Regions from separate parts of the Homo sapiens genome. Here all the other regions are linked to region 1. Evidence: fine-mapped expression QTL. A gene starts in region 1. Each other region holds a variant in brackets. All regions are shown on one strand. Distances are between the middles of the regions. Region 1 holds the start of SNHG29 (small nucleolar RNA host gene 29). Region 2 has its middle 12 kb from the start of UBB. Region 3 has its middle 17 kb from the start of TRPV2.

What was found. PIP is the estimated chance that this variant, and not a neighbour inherited with it, causes the effect.
Region 2: its variant is the best candidate, but not a certain one, in a credible set for the expression of SNHG29 in whole blood (INTERVAL, PIP 0.61).
Region 3: its variant is the best candidate, but not a certain one, in a credible set for the expression of SNHG29 in sun-exposed skin (GTEx, PIP 0.71).

The regions. Positions count from the first base shown.
Region 1 is chr17:16,436,864-16,441,210 of GRCh38, forward strand. SNHG29 (small nucleolar RNA host gene 29) reads left to right here and starts at 2,124. Exons shown (of 4, transcript NR_045025.1): 1 at 2,124-2,197; 2 at 3,322-3,390; 3 at 4,211-4,267. SNORD49B (small nucleolar RNA, C/D box 49B) reads left to right here and starts at 2,646; the gene lies at 2,646-2,693. SNORD49A (small nucleolar RNA, C/D box 49A) reads left to right here and starts at 3,173; the gene lies at 3,173-3,243. TRPV2 (transient receptor potential cation channel subfamily V member 2) reads left to right here. Exons shown (of 15, transcript NM_016113.5): 15 at 1-140. The coding sequence ends at 26. RefSeq lists enhancers at 626-1,527, 1,528-2,427, 1,543-1,732, 1,793-2,122, 2,428-3,329 and 1 more.
Region 2 is chr17:16,390,965-16,395,311 of GRCh38, forward strand. It overlaps the pseudogene FTLP12. Among named protein-coding and RNA genes, the nearest start is that of UBB, 12 kb to the left of the region's middle. The variant CAAAAAA/C (reference allele first, on the strand shown) is at 2,154.
Region 3 is chr17:16,396,546-16,400,545 of GRCh38, forward strand. No RefSeq gene overlaps it. Among named protein-coding and RNA genes, the nearest start is that of TRPV2, 17 kb to the right of the region's middle. RefSeq lists a cis regulatory region at 1,603-2,666. The variant G/C (reference allele first, on the strand shown) is at 2,342.

The DNA of each region.
Region 1 (4,347 bases):
CCGTCCAGCTCCTCCAGTCCAACTGATGGCCCAGATGCAGCAGGAGGCCAGAGGACAGAGCAGAGGATCTTTCCAACCACATCTGCTGGCTCTGGGGTCCCAGTGAATTCTGGTGGCAAATATATATTTTCACTAACTAACTCTTCTGGAAACATTATTTGGGCAGAGTTGCTGGGACCCTTAGAGCTGGCAATGTCTGCATGTCTCTGTGTGCACAGGTCTGTGTATGGGACTAGGTTGCTCCTGCCCTTGCCTGGGCACAGAGACCCTCAGTTGCTGTGTCCCCACCCTCACCCCCACATCCCCAAGTCTGGGGACTGTCCTCTTCCTGGGTACAGGCAGCTGGCTGAGGTGCTGTGCCCATTGTTGTGGCAGATATATGGTGATGGACATGGGCAAACAGCCACCTCTCCTCTCTCTCCACCACGACACCCTTTGCTTTCCACACCCACCCTGCTTTTGGGCAGGTACCTGGGAAAACCCATTAAAGCCACCTCTCTTGCTTTCTCTTCCTACCGAGCTTCTTGCTCAATTCCCACCCCTCCCAAGCCATTCTCTGCAGGGCAGCCAGAGGGCCTTCCTAAGACATAAGACAAACATGTCCTCTTTGTGCTCTGAAGGCCTGAGAGGCTCCCCAGTACCCACAGAATGCCCTAGCTGACATCCCGAGACCCCCACGGTTTTGCCCAAGCAGTTCCAGACACCTCCTCCCCTCCACCTCTGTTGCCCCTCCCTCCTTAGCACTCTCCCCAAATTCATGCAGGCCGAGAGACCTCGTGCTTGATCCCTTGACCTGGCTCTTGCTGGAAGCCCCCCTCCTCCATTAAAACCCTACACTTGGGGGTGGGGGGAGGGATAGCATTAGGAGATATACCTAATGTAAATGATGAGTTAATGGGTGCAGCATACCAACATGGCACATGTATACATATGTAACAAACCTGCACGTTGTGCACATGTACCCTAGAACTTAAAGTATAATAATAAAATAAAACCCTACACTTGCCGGGCGCCTGTAATCCCAGCACTCTGGGAGGCCCAGGCGGGCGGATCACCTGAGTTCAGGAGTTCGAAACCAGCCTGACCAACATGGAGAAACCCCGTCTCTACTAAAAATACAAAATTAGCCGGGCGTGGTGGCGCATGCCTGTAATCCCAGCTACTCGGGAGGCTGAGGCAGAAGAATCGCTTGAACCCGGGAGGCAGAGGTTGCGGTGAGCGGAGATCGCGCCATTGCAGTCCAGCCTGGGCAACAGGAGCGAAATTCCGTCTCAAAAAAACACAAAAACGAGCAACAACAACAACAACAACAAAAACCCTACACTTATTTCTGAGGCCAGCTCAAAAGGTCTTATGATTGTCTTCCCAGTTTTTTGCAGTCAAAATGAATTTCTTTCCCTTGGTATAACGTGTGTGTGCAAAACGTGGTTGCATGGATTCTTTTTCAAGGAGAGAGCTGAGCATGTTCATAGGCTGAAAGGAAAGCCACAGTAGAGAGAGTTTTCCATGGAAGGTGAGGCAGGGGCATAGGTGGAGGAGGCCCCAAGGAATGAGGAGAGGAAAGGAGGTGGGCAGAGCTTTACCCCAGAGGCGAGCAGAGGATGGACGTGGATCTAGATAAGACGTCAGCTCGTTCCCTAAAGGTCGTGCTAAAGGAGTAATGAGGGTGACCAGTGCGCAGGGGTTTGAGAAGCCCCGTGGATGTGGTGAAATAGCTGTGGGGAGAGTATTTGGCAACGCTCAATAGATTCAGGAGGAGCTACTAGGATGAATGGCTGCCTTGTGCCACAGCTCTACAGGCTTTCACGTGTGTCATCTCACGTGATCTTCTGGGGCGCTGGTGTCTCCGTTTACTAGAGGACCAATCGGAAGCTTAAAGAGAATGAGTAATTGGCCCAAGACCACCCAGCTAAGGAGTGGCGGAGGTGGGGCCCAAACGCGCGATCCAGCCCTCGCGCAGGCGCCCTGGAACTCCCCGCGCGTGTTGTGACCCAGAATTCCCGGGGCTGTGGAAGAGACCATAGACTCAACAGGAGGGGGAGTCCTGGGTAGCGCGCCGGTCTAAATCGTTACTTGGCGGAAAGTTCCCATGAGTCTTTGCCAGCGTCCCCCTCCTTTTGTGAGGATTGGGATATTCCGACTCCTTAAGGGCCTGGCGCACATAAGGTGTGACCTTTTCATTCCCGTTGTTATGGAGGTAGGCTCTCTAGGAATCTGGGAGTAGTAGCTGGGGGGCAAGAGCAAATAAAGAGCTCGAGCTTCTGTGGTCTCTGGGGAGATGTTCCCGGGAAGCCTGTCTAGAGGGCGGAGGGCAGCTGTTGAGATGGCGTGGCTCCCCGGCTCCTGCGCCCGCGTGGCTTTCGCGGCGGGCGCTGCGGCCCGGTATTGGACAGCCTGGCAGGGCAGCGCGGGGCCGAATCCGGCTGCCGTGGCTGAGGCTCATGGATCACTCTTTTGTGGTAGGGCCACATCTGCCAGAGCCTGGAGTCTGCGAAGGCCGGGACCCGGTTCCCCGGCCCACAGTGGGGGTGTGCAAACCCGAGAGAACTGGGTAAGTTGGGGTCGGCTTGCAGTTTGGGGTACCCCGAGGGCGGTGTACGTCGGTAAGATTGTAACAGTATTACTGGAAGACTTATTCGACTGTCCTGATGATACTTGTAATAGGAAGTGCCGTCAGAAGCGATAACTGACGACGTCTAATGTCTATCTGACCGCAGTCGCTGAAACCTCTACAACTTAGTTGACCGTAACTGCCAGAGCCCTGCCCTGAATTCCTGTCCTTACTCCCTCTTTAAGATTGCGTACCCACTGCAGAGTGCTGAAGACGGGGTAGCCACGAGGTGAGAGGCTCTCTGGTGTAGGGTTTAACATGGAACGTAGTTTTGTCACTTGAATGCACGGAAATTGGCGTTTTGACAGTTTTCTACGTTTAGGTGTTTTATACACTTTAGGGTAACGTTATCATGTCATTGCATAGGGTGGAACTTAAATAGAAACTGGAGATGGCTGCTTCAGCCACAGTCCTAACCTAGAACTGCATTTAAAGCAAACTGATAATGCAGAAACAAACTCCTTCGTTAAGAAATGTCTCCAGTAGCAGGGTTAGCTTAAGTTTCAGGTAGGGTCTAGATCTGCGGTTGGAACAGTACTGGAGGGTTGTGAGGTGCTTGACTGCTCTGATGAAATCACTAATAGGAAGTGCCGTCAGAAGCGATAACTGACGAAGACTACTCCTGTCTGATTGCAGTCAAGTCTTCACCACTTGCTGGTTCCCAGGAGTAAACTTGTTTGAACGGTGACCTAATTGCTATATTCACCTAGGTTGCAAATTCGTGAAGAATCAGCATCATGTTTGGCAGCTGAGTATTGGAGCCAGGAGCCTGCCATGAGGTAAGCCTTGCTCTATGGGGAGGCTAGTGGCTGACCACGCCTAGCTGTCAGGTCGAATATTGGCAATTGGATTTGGTTAACCTAATACCTTGTAACAGTGTAGCCTATCCCAGAGATACTGATTTTAGTTTCCGGTGGCAGTGGAGCCAGGGTGGATTACCTAGAAAGAGGGGCTACTCTATTTACCTCTTGGCTGTTTAGTCTCGGGCAAATTACCTGTCTGCTGAGATGTAGTTTTCCTCAGATGTGAAAAGGAAAAGTAATCTTAGCTTTGTGAAGTTTAAATTGATATGACTGAAATGGAGATTACAACTCCCCTGAGGCTGGGCACAGTGGCCTGTAATCCCAGCACTTTGGGAGGCTAAGGTGGGTGGATCACCTGAGGTCAGGAGTTCAAGACCAGCCTGGCTGGCCGACATGGTGAAACCCCATCTCTACCAAAAATACAAAAATTAGCCGGGTGTGGTGGCGTGTACTTGTAATCCCAGCTACTTTGGGGGCTGAGCCAGGAGAATCGCTTGAACCCGGGAGGCGGAGGTTGTAGTGAGTCGAAATCGTGCCACTGCACTCCAGCCTGGGCAACAGCGAGACTCCATCTCAAAAAAAAAAAAAAAATTACAACCTACTGAGAAGCTAATTAAGATTTGTAGTCCTCAATAATTTACAAAAACTTAGAAAAATTACCTCTAATTAGGTCTTAAGGGGCTTTTGTTAGGATGGACTTAAATTTGTAAAGTCATTAATTGACTGTCATCAGAAATGCCTGTCCTGCTCTGCATCTGCAGTCTCTAAGGTGTATGCGCCTTCTCCATTCCCCCAGGTTTTGAGAACAGAGTGCTGTTTTAGAGCTGGCAGCAGCATCTCAGCCCAAGAGAAGGTAAGCCTTGAGCTGGCCAATGATCCCTTCAACCCCATAGTGGAATGAATAAACAGCTGATCTTGTTAAAACTCGCTTCA
Region 2 (4,347 bases), 46 kb before region 1:
AGCTATTCGGGAGACTGAGGTGGGAGGATCACTTGAGCCCAGGGGGCCGAGGCTGCAGTGAGCTGTGATCTCCCCACTGCTCTCCAGCCTGGGAGACAGAGCAAGACCCTGTCTCAATCATCATCATCATCATCTGACAATCTTTTTCTTTATGGCTTCTGGGCCAAAGGAATAAATGAAGGTATAAGGCTTGTTGATAACTATTAATAACACACATTAAAAAAAAAACTATGCATAACACACATTCGAAATCTACAGCGCGTTGCCTGAAGTTAGCATGTTGGGTTCTGGCTCTGTCTTTTGCTTCAACAGTGTTTGGAACGAACAGACCAGGGGGCTCCCTCTTCCAGCCTCTGATCGCCTCCCATCTCCTTTCCACTTGAGCCTCCAAGACCATCTTCTTGGCAACCTCCTGCTTCTGGGCCCAGCCAACACCGTTTTTGTGGTTATCTGCTTCTTGTCCCCAAGCATGAGCTCCCAGATGTGTCAGAATCATTCCACCCAGGCGGAGGCAACCACTAACTGCCTGGTCAACTGGCATCTCTCTGGGCTTCTACTTCAGCCGTGACGATGTGGCTCTGGAAGGTGAACTGGCCAAGCGTCTCTGGAAGATGCAAAGCCAGCATGGCAGCCCGCTCTTCTGCAGGACCTGCAGATGAGATGAGTGGGATAAAACCCTGGATGCCGCGGGGGCAGCCTTGGCCCTGGAGAGGAGCCTGAACCAGCCTATTCTGGGTCTTCACGCCCTGGGTTCTGCTGGCACAGACCTCATCTCTGGGACTTCCTAGAGAGGCCTTTCCTAGATGTGGGAGTGAAACTCGTCAAGAGAGTGGATGATCGCCTGACCTCTGCGGGCTGGCCGCCCGGAGCTGGGTCAAGCAACTGTCTTTTCCAAAGTCTTGCCACCCTCAAGCACGACTGGGAGCCTAGCGAGCCCAGCGACCTCTGAGAGGCTCCTCTCAAACGATCAGGGTTTCTGCCTGCCTGAGCCTCCCCCTCCAGCCACTAGGCAGCTTTTTAACACCCTGGAGCCCTCTCCCAAGCCTGGACCAAATTTGCAGGGACAAAAGCGGGGCAGGGGCTGGGGTGGGGAAATCAAATTAATGACCTTCTTAGGGTAAAGATGTTTCAGGAAGAGGAAACCTGCCATCCCACAACCCCTAGACCATAATAGCATTTATTCCTTCCAGGGATCAACAAACCAGTGACAGAGAGACTCTGGAGCCATTGAAATCTACTGATTGAGGCCAGGCACGGTGGCTCACGCCTGTAATCCCAGCACTTTGGGAGGCCAAGGCGGGAGGATCACAAGGTCAGGAGTTGGAGACCAGACTGGCCAACATAGCAAAACCCCATCTCTACTAAAAATACAAAAAAAAAATTAGCCAGACGTGGTGGCAGGTGCCTGTAATCCCAGCTATTCAGGAGGCTGAGGCAGGAGAACCACTTGAACCTGGGAGGCAGAGGTTGCAGTGAGCCGAGATCGTGCCATTGTACTTCAGCCTAGGCGATAAGAGCAAGACTCCATCTCAAAAAAAAAAAAAGAAAAATCTACTGATTAATGCCTATCTTAACTCCAGTGTCAATAGTAGCTTTGACAAACGCCTTTTATATCATGTGGCTATACTTTGCCAAGCATACTGAGCACTATTATAATTGTTTCCTAATACCCCATGTGATACCCCCATGCTTCATACGTTTATAACACATTTAAAAATAGCATGACGCCAGGGGCGGTGGCTCACGCCTGTAATCCCAGCCCTTTGGGAGGCTGAGGCGGGCAGATCGCCTGAGGTCAGGAATTCAAGACCAGCCTGGCCAACATAGTGAAACCCTGTCTCTACTAAAAATGCAAAGAATTAGCTGGGCGTGGGCCGGGCGCGGTGGCTGACACCTGTAATTCCAGCACTTTGGGAGGCCTAGGCAGGCGGATCACCTGAGGTTGGGAGTTCGAGACCAGCCTGACCAACATGGAGAAACCCCGTCTCTACTGAAAATACAAAATTTGCCAGGCATGGTGGCCCATGCCTGTAATCCCAGCTAATTGGGAGGCTGAGGCAGGAGAATCGCTTGAACCCAGGAGGCAGAGGTTGCGGTGAACCGAGATCGCATCAAGGCACTCCAGCCTAGGTGACAAGAGCAAAACTCTGTCT[CAAAAAA/C]AAAAAAAAAAAAATTAGCTGGGCATGGTGGGCGGGAGCCTGTAATCCCAGTTACTAGGGAGGCTGAGGCAGGAGAATTGCTTGAACCCAGGAGGCGGAGGTTGTGGTGAGCCGAGATCACGCCATTGCACTCCAGCCTGGACAACAAGAGCAAATCTCTGTCTCAAAAAAAAAAAATTTTTTTTCAGATAATCTGGAACGGTAAAAAGAAGAGAGTAAAATTACCTAAATAAATTACCAAATTCCCATCATCTGGAGGTAACTATTGATAGCACAGATTTTTAAAAAATGGGTTATCATATAATGCTTTCTATTTTTTATCCTGCTTTTTTAAACTTAATTTTTCTACTTACATTGTTTTATGCTAATAAATATATATCTTCATTTAAATAGCTGCATAGCTTTCTGTTGTATATATCATAATTTATTTAACTCATACTAATGGGGCATTTGTAAACAACTCTATGGTGTAAATGCATCCCTTCATATATATTTATATGTGTATGTGTGTGTGTGTGTGTGTGTGTGTGTGTGTGTGTGTATTTAGAGATAGGCTCCCACTCTGCTGCCCAGGCTTGTGTGCAGTGGTGCAATCATAGCTAACTGTATCCTCAAATTCCAGTGTCAAGTGATCTTCCCACCTCAGCCTCCTGAGTAGCTGGGACCACAGGCACATGCCACCTTGCCTGGCTAATTTATTTTGATTTTTATTTTTTTGTAGAGGTGGGGTCTTACCATATGACCCAGGATGGTCTCAAACTCGTGGCCTCAAGTGGTCCTCCTACCTCAGCCTCCTAAAGCATTGGGATTTAGAGGCATAAGCCACTGTGCCCAGTCTCTTGACATATTTTGTAAATTAAAAACGAGGAAGAAATATTTACAACACAGGCGTGTGCCACCATACCCAGCTAATTTTTTGTATTTTTAGTAGAGACAGGGTTTCACCATGTTGGCCAGGCTGGTCTCAAACTCCTGACCTCAAGTGATCCGCCCACCTCAGCCTCCCAAAGTGCTGGGATTACAAGCATGAGACACTGTGCCTGACGTTAAAGGACTAATTTCTTTCTTTTTTTTCTTTTCTTTTGAGACAGGATCTTACTCTGTCACCCAGACTGGAGTGCTGTGATACGATCACAGCTCATTGCAGTCTCCATGTCCCAGGCACAAGTGATCCACCTCAGCTTCCCAAGTAGCTGGGACTACAGGGGCACATACTACACCTGGCTAATTTAAAAAACTCTTTGTAGAGACAGGTTCTTGCTATGTTTCTCAGACTGGTCTTGAACTGCTGACCTCAAATGATCCTTCTGCCTCAGCCTCTGAAAGTGCTGGGATTACAGGCATGGGCCACTGCACCCACCGAAAGGACTAATTTCTTCAATATATAAGTGGTTTCTATAAATATATGAGAAACAGATTAATAACACAATAGGAAAATGGACAAAGGACAGGAGCAGACAATTCACAGAAAAGAAAATTGTTGTTTTTTTTTTTTGAGACGGAGTCTCACTCTGTCGCCCAGGCTGGAGTGCAGCGGTGGCACTATCTCGGCTCACTGCAAGCTCTGCCTCCTGGGTTCACGCCACTCTCCTGCCTCAGCCTCCCGAGTAGCTGGGACTACAGGCACCCGCCACCACGCCAGGCTAATTTTGTTTTTTGTATTTTTAGTAGAGATGGGGTTTCACCATGTTAGCCAGGATGGTCGCGATCACCTGACCTCATGATCCGCCGACCTCGTGATCCGCCCGCCTCGGCATCCCAAAGTGCTGGGATTACAGGTGTGAGCCACCGCGCCTGGCCAAAAATTGTTCTTAAACACATGACAAGATGTGCAGCTTCACTTAGCATAAGAAAAATGACCATTCAATGTATGAAGTGGCATTTTTTAATATTTCAGATTGACAAAGATAAAACAAGACTGTTAATACTTTTGTTTACAAGAGTGCAGAGAAATGCATCCTCATGTATTGTTGGTCGGTGTAAACTGGTACAACCTCTTTGGAAGGCAGTTGGGTAAGTAGCTATGAAAATCTCAACTGCAGCTGGGCGAAGTGCCTGTCATCCCAGCACTTTGGGAGACCGAGGCGGGTGGATCACCTGAGGTCAGGAGTTCGAGACCAGCCTGACCAACATGTTGAAACCCCGTCTCTACTAAAAATACTCACACACAAAAAATTATCCAGGCGTG
Region 3 (4,000 bases), 40 kb before region 1:
CACACCAGCCAGGACCTTGAGAAGGGAGAAGGTGCTGAGCCACTCAAGCACATGGCCAGGGGAGCTTAGAAAAACAGGGACTTCCAACCTGCCTGGGCAATATAGCGAGACCCCGTTCTCCAAAAACAAGGAAAAAAGAAAAAAGAAAAAGAGGGACCCTCCAAACACAAGCAGGGAGAAGCTGAAGAAGTGGGTGCTAGAAGAGCCTGGAGATGTGTAGATGGCAGCCTGTCTGCTGCTCTGGGCCTTGGCCATTGCCTGTGCTGCTGATGCTTCTGCTGTCTCTTCTCCTTTCACAAAACTACAAGAGCTCAGGTTGGGGCTGCTCAAAAGCTTCCCGCAATGTGCTGATTCACTCTAAGTGCCTGCTCCTCTGCAGACTGACTTCATGCACTTAAAATAATTCACTCGTTTCATTGTTAGCTCTGTCCTCTCCACTTGCATTTCAGGCCAGAGCACTACAGTGAGGTCCCAAGCTCTGTCCTGTAAACCACAGGTAAAATTCTAAGGCCCCTCCACAACCATCTGAATGGGCCCCTCTTCTTGGCTAAGGACATTCCCAAGTAAATCTGAAAATCTAGTTCAGGACATGACGGAAGAGCAGGTCACACAAGCATCATTATAACTTCCTCCCTTTTGGAATTCAGGAAAAGCCAACCAGCATTAACATCAACACAGATCTTAAGTCTGGTAAGAAACATTTACAATCTATTTTCTCTGAAGTTTGCTACCTGGAAGCTTCATCTGCCTGATAAAACCTTGGTCTCTACAACCCCTTATCAAAACCCAGGCATTTCTTTCTACTGATAATAAGTCTTTCTTCTTTTTTTTTTTTTTCCTAGATAGAGTCTCGCTCTGTCGCCCAGACTGGAGTGCAGCAGCACCATCTTGGCTCACTGCAACCTCTTCCTCCCGGGTTCAAGCGATTCTCCCGCCTCAGCCTCCTGAGTAACTGGGATTACAGGCATGTGCCACCACACCCGGCTAATTTTCTTTTTTGTGAGACAGAGTTTCACTCTTGTTGCCCAGGCTGGAGTGCAATGGTATGATCTCGGCTCACCACAACCTCTGCCTCCCAGGTTCAAGCGATTCTCCTGCCTCAGCCTCCTGAGTAGCTGGGATTACAGGCATGCGCCACCACACCCGGCTGATTTTGTATTTTTAGTAGAGACAGGGTTTCTCCATGTTGGCCAAGCTGGCCTCGAACTCCTGACCTCAGGTGATCCACCCGCCTCGGCCTCCCAAAGTGCTGGGATTATAAGCGTGAGCCATGGCACCTGGCCAACTCTTTCAACTAATTGCCAATCAGAAAAACTTTAAAATCTGCCTGTGACCTGGATACACTCCTCACACGCACTTCGAGTTGTCCTGCCCTTCCATATGGAACCAACGTAAGTCCTATATGTATTTGACTGATGTCTCATGTCTCCCTAAAATGTATAAAACTAGGCTGTGTCTGAGCACCTTGGGCACATGTTCTCAGGATCTCCTGAGGGCTGTGTCACAGGCCATTGATCACTCATATTTGGCTCAGAATAAATCTCCTCAAATACTTTTTTGTCAACAGTCCACTGGGCTCAGGTGAGCAGGGCCTGAAACAGATGACATGGAAATTTATAATAAAATAAGGGGCCCGTGCCTTAAGACATACCACAAAGTAAATATAACACTGTACAGGCTCTCTCGGGTGACCCTGGACTACAGAATGTGGGTTGTGGGGAGGGAGAGACGTGGACTTTTTCCTGCAGGTCATGGCTTGGGTGCACCTAGAAACAGGCCAATACCACCTCTTCTTTTCTGGAAAGGTGGGGCCTGACAGCTTTGTGTGGGGAACCAGTGTCCTGTTACAGTTCAGGTCTAAAATGCCTGCTGAGTAAATAAACATGTTGTTCTCAACCTAAACCGAAAAGCCTGATATTTGTAGGAATAAAATTGATCTTTCCTACCCTGAGCAAAGTGCTCCAAATATGCTCAGTCATGGAGTGGAGACAGATAAGTAAACAGACGCTGGGAATAGAGTGGAGACAGATAAATAAACAGATGCTGGGGATATGTCGTGATACAGAGCCAGGCCAGAGTCAAGCAAGGTGCTGCATTGGCATTCTGCCGGCCTTTCCTGCAGGAAAAGGTGTGAAAAAGCTCTTGGGGTGATGGGAAGGGGTGTGCTGTTTTGAAATCGGAAGATAAAAACAGAGCCATGGAGGTTCTGCGCCATCGCCTTGGAACAGATGGTATCTGCCTCCACATCTGCAATGACTCAGATCTCTGCTCTGGGCATACCTGCAGTCAAATCAGGGCTGCCCAGACATCCTGTGTTTGTGAAATGCTGAGAAAAACAGAA[G/C]GGGACTAACTGGCTTCTAGCAGTTGCCTACTCATCCACCCTCTTCCAAACACCCAGGCTGGGGAGTAACATTTTGGGGATGAGTCCTCGTAATGCTGCTTCTCTCTAGAGAGCAATGTGTGAAAATTGACCCAAGGAGTTGTCTCATGGGGTGAGGCATGATTGGCTGTCTTTTCTCAGAGCCTCCCTGAGGCTCATCTACCCCCATGCCCTGAGCTCACTGGGGCCTGCCTGGCCAAACAGAATATACCCATTAAGGGAAATAAATTTCCAGGCCACAATAACAAGCATCACCACTTTGAAAAGAAAGAACCATAAACTGAAATTCTTCAGAATAAGAATTTTTAATTAGCCTAATAAACACATTAAAAGATATAAAGGAAAATACTAGAACTATGAAACAAATGAATACAAAAACACCAAAAAGAACCAACAAGAAATACTAAGTTGAAAATATAAAAGTTGAGGCTGGGCACAGCGGCTCAAGCCTGTAATCCCAGCGCTTTGGGATGCCAAGGCGGGTGGATCACCTGAGGTCGGGAGTTCGAGACCAGCCTGACCAACATGGTGAAACCCCATCTCTACTAAAAATACAAAAATTAGCCGGGCGTGGTGGCACGTGCCTGTAATCCCAGCTACTCAGGAGGCTGAGGCAGGAGAATTGCTTGAGCCCGGGAGGCGGAGGTTGCAGTGAGCTGAGATCGCGCCACTGCACTCCAACCTGGGTAACAGAGCAAGACTCTGTTTCAAAAAAAAAAATTAGCCAGGGGTAGTGGTGAACGCCTGTAGTCCCAGCTACTCAGGAGGCAGAGGCAGGAGAATCACTTGAACCCAGGAGGCGGAGGTTGCGGTGAGCTGAGATCACACCATTGCACTCCAGCCTGGGCAACAAGAGCAAAACTCCCACTCAAAAAAAAAAGGGCCGAGCACAGTGGCTCACACCTGTAATCCCAGCACTTTGGTGTAGGGAAAAGAGAGATCAGACTGTTACTGCGTCTATGTAGAAAGGGAAGACATAAGAAGTTCCATTTTGACCTGTACATTTTTTTTTTTTGAGACGGAGTCTTGCTCTGTCGCCCAGGCTGGAGTGCAGAGGCGCGATCTCAGCTCACTGCAAGCTCTGCCTCCCGGGTTCACGCCATTCTCCTGCCTCAGCCTCCCCAGTAGCTGGGACTACAGGCGCCCACCACCACGCCCACCTAATTTTTTGTATTTTTCGTAGAGAAGGGGTTTCACCATTTTAACCAGGATGGTCTCGATCTCCTGACCTCGTGATCCGCCCACCTCAGCCTCCCAAAGCGTACCTTGAACAATTGCTTTGCTGAAATGTTGTTAATTTGTAACTTTGCCCCAGCCACTTTGCCCCAGCCACTTTGCCCCAACTTTGAGCTCACAAAAACATGTGTTGTATGGAATGAAGGTTTAAGGGATCTAGGGCTGTGCAGGAGGTGCCTTGTTAACAAAATATTTACAAGCAGTATGCTTGGTAAAAGTCATCACCATTCTCTAGTCTCAATAAACCAGGGGCACTATGCACTGCGAAAAGCCGCAGGGACCTCTGCCCTGGAAAGCTGGGTATTGTCCAAGATTTCTCCCCATGTGATAGTCTGAAATATGGCCTCATGGGATGAGAAAGACCTGACTGTCCCCCAGCCCGAC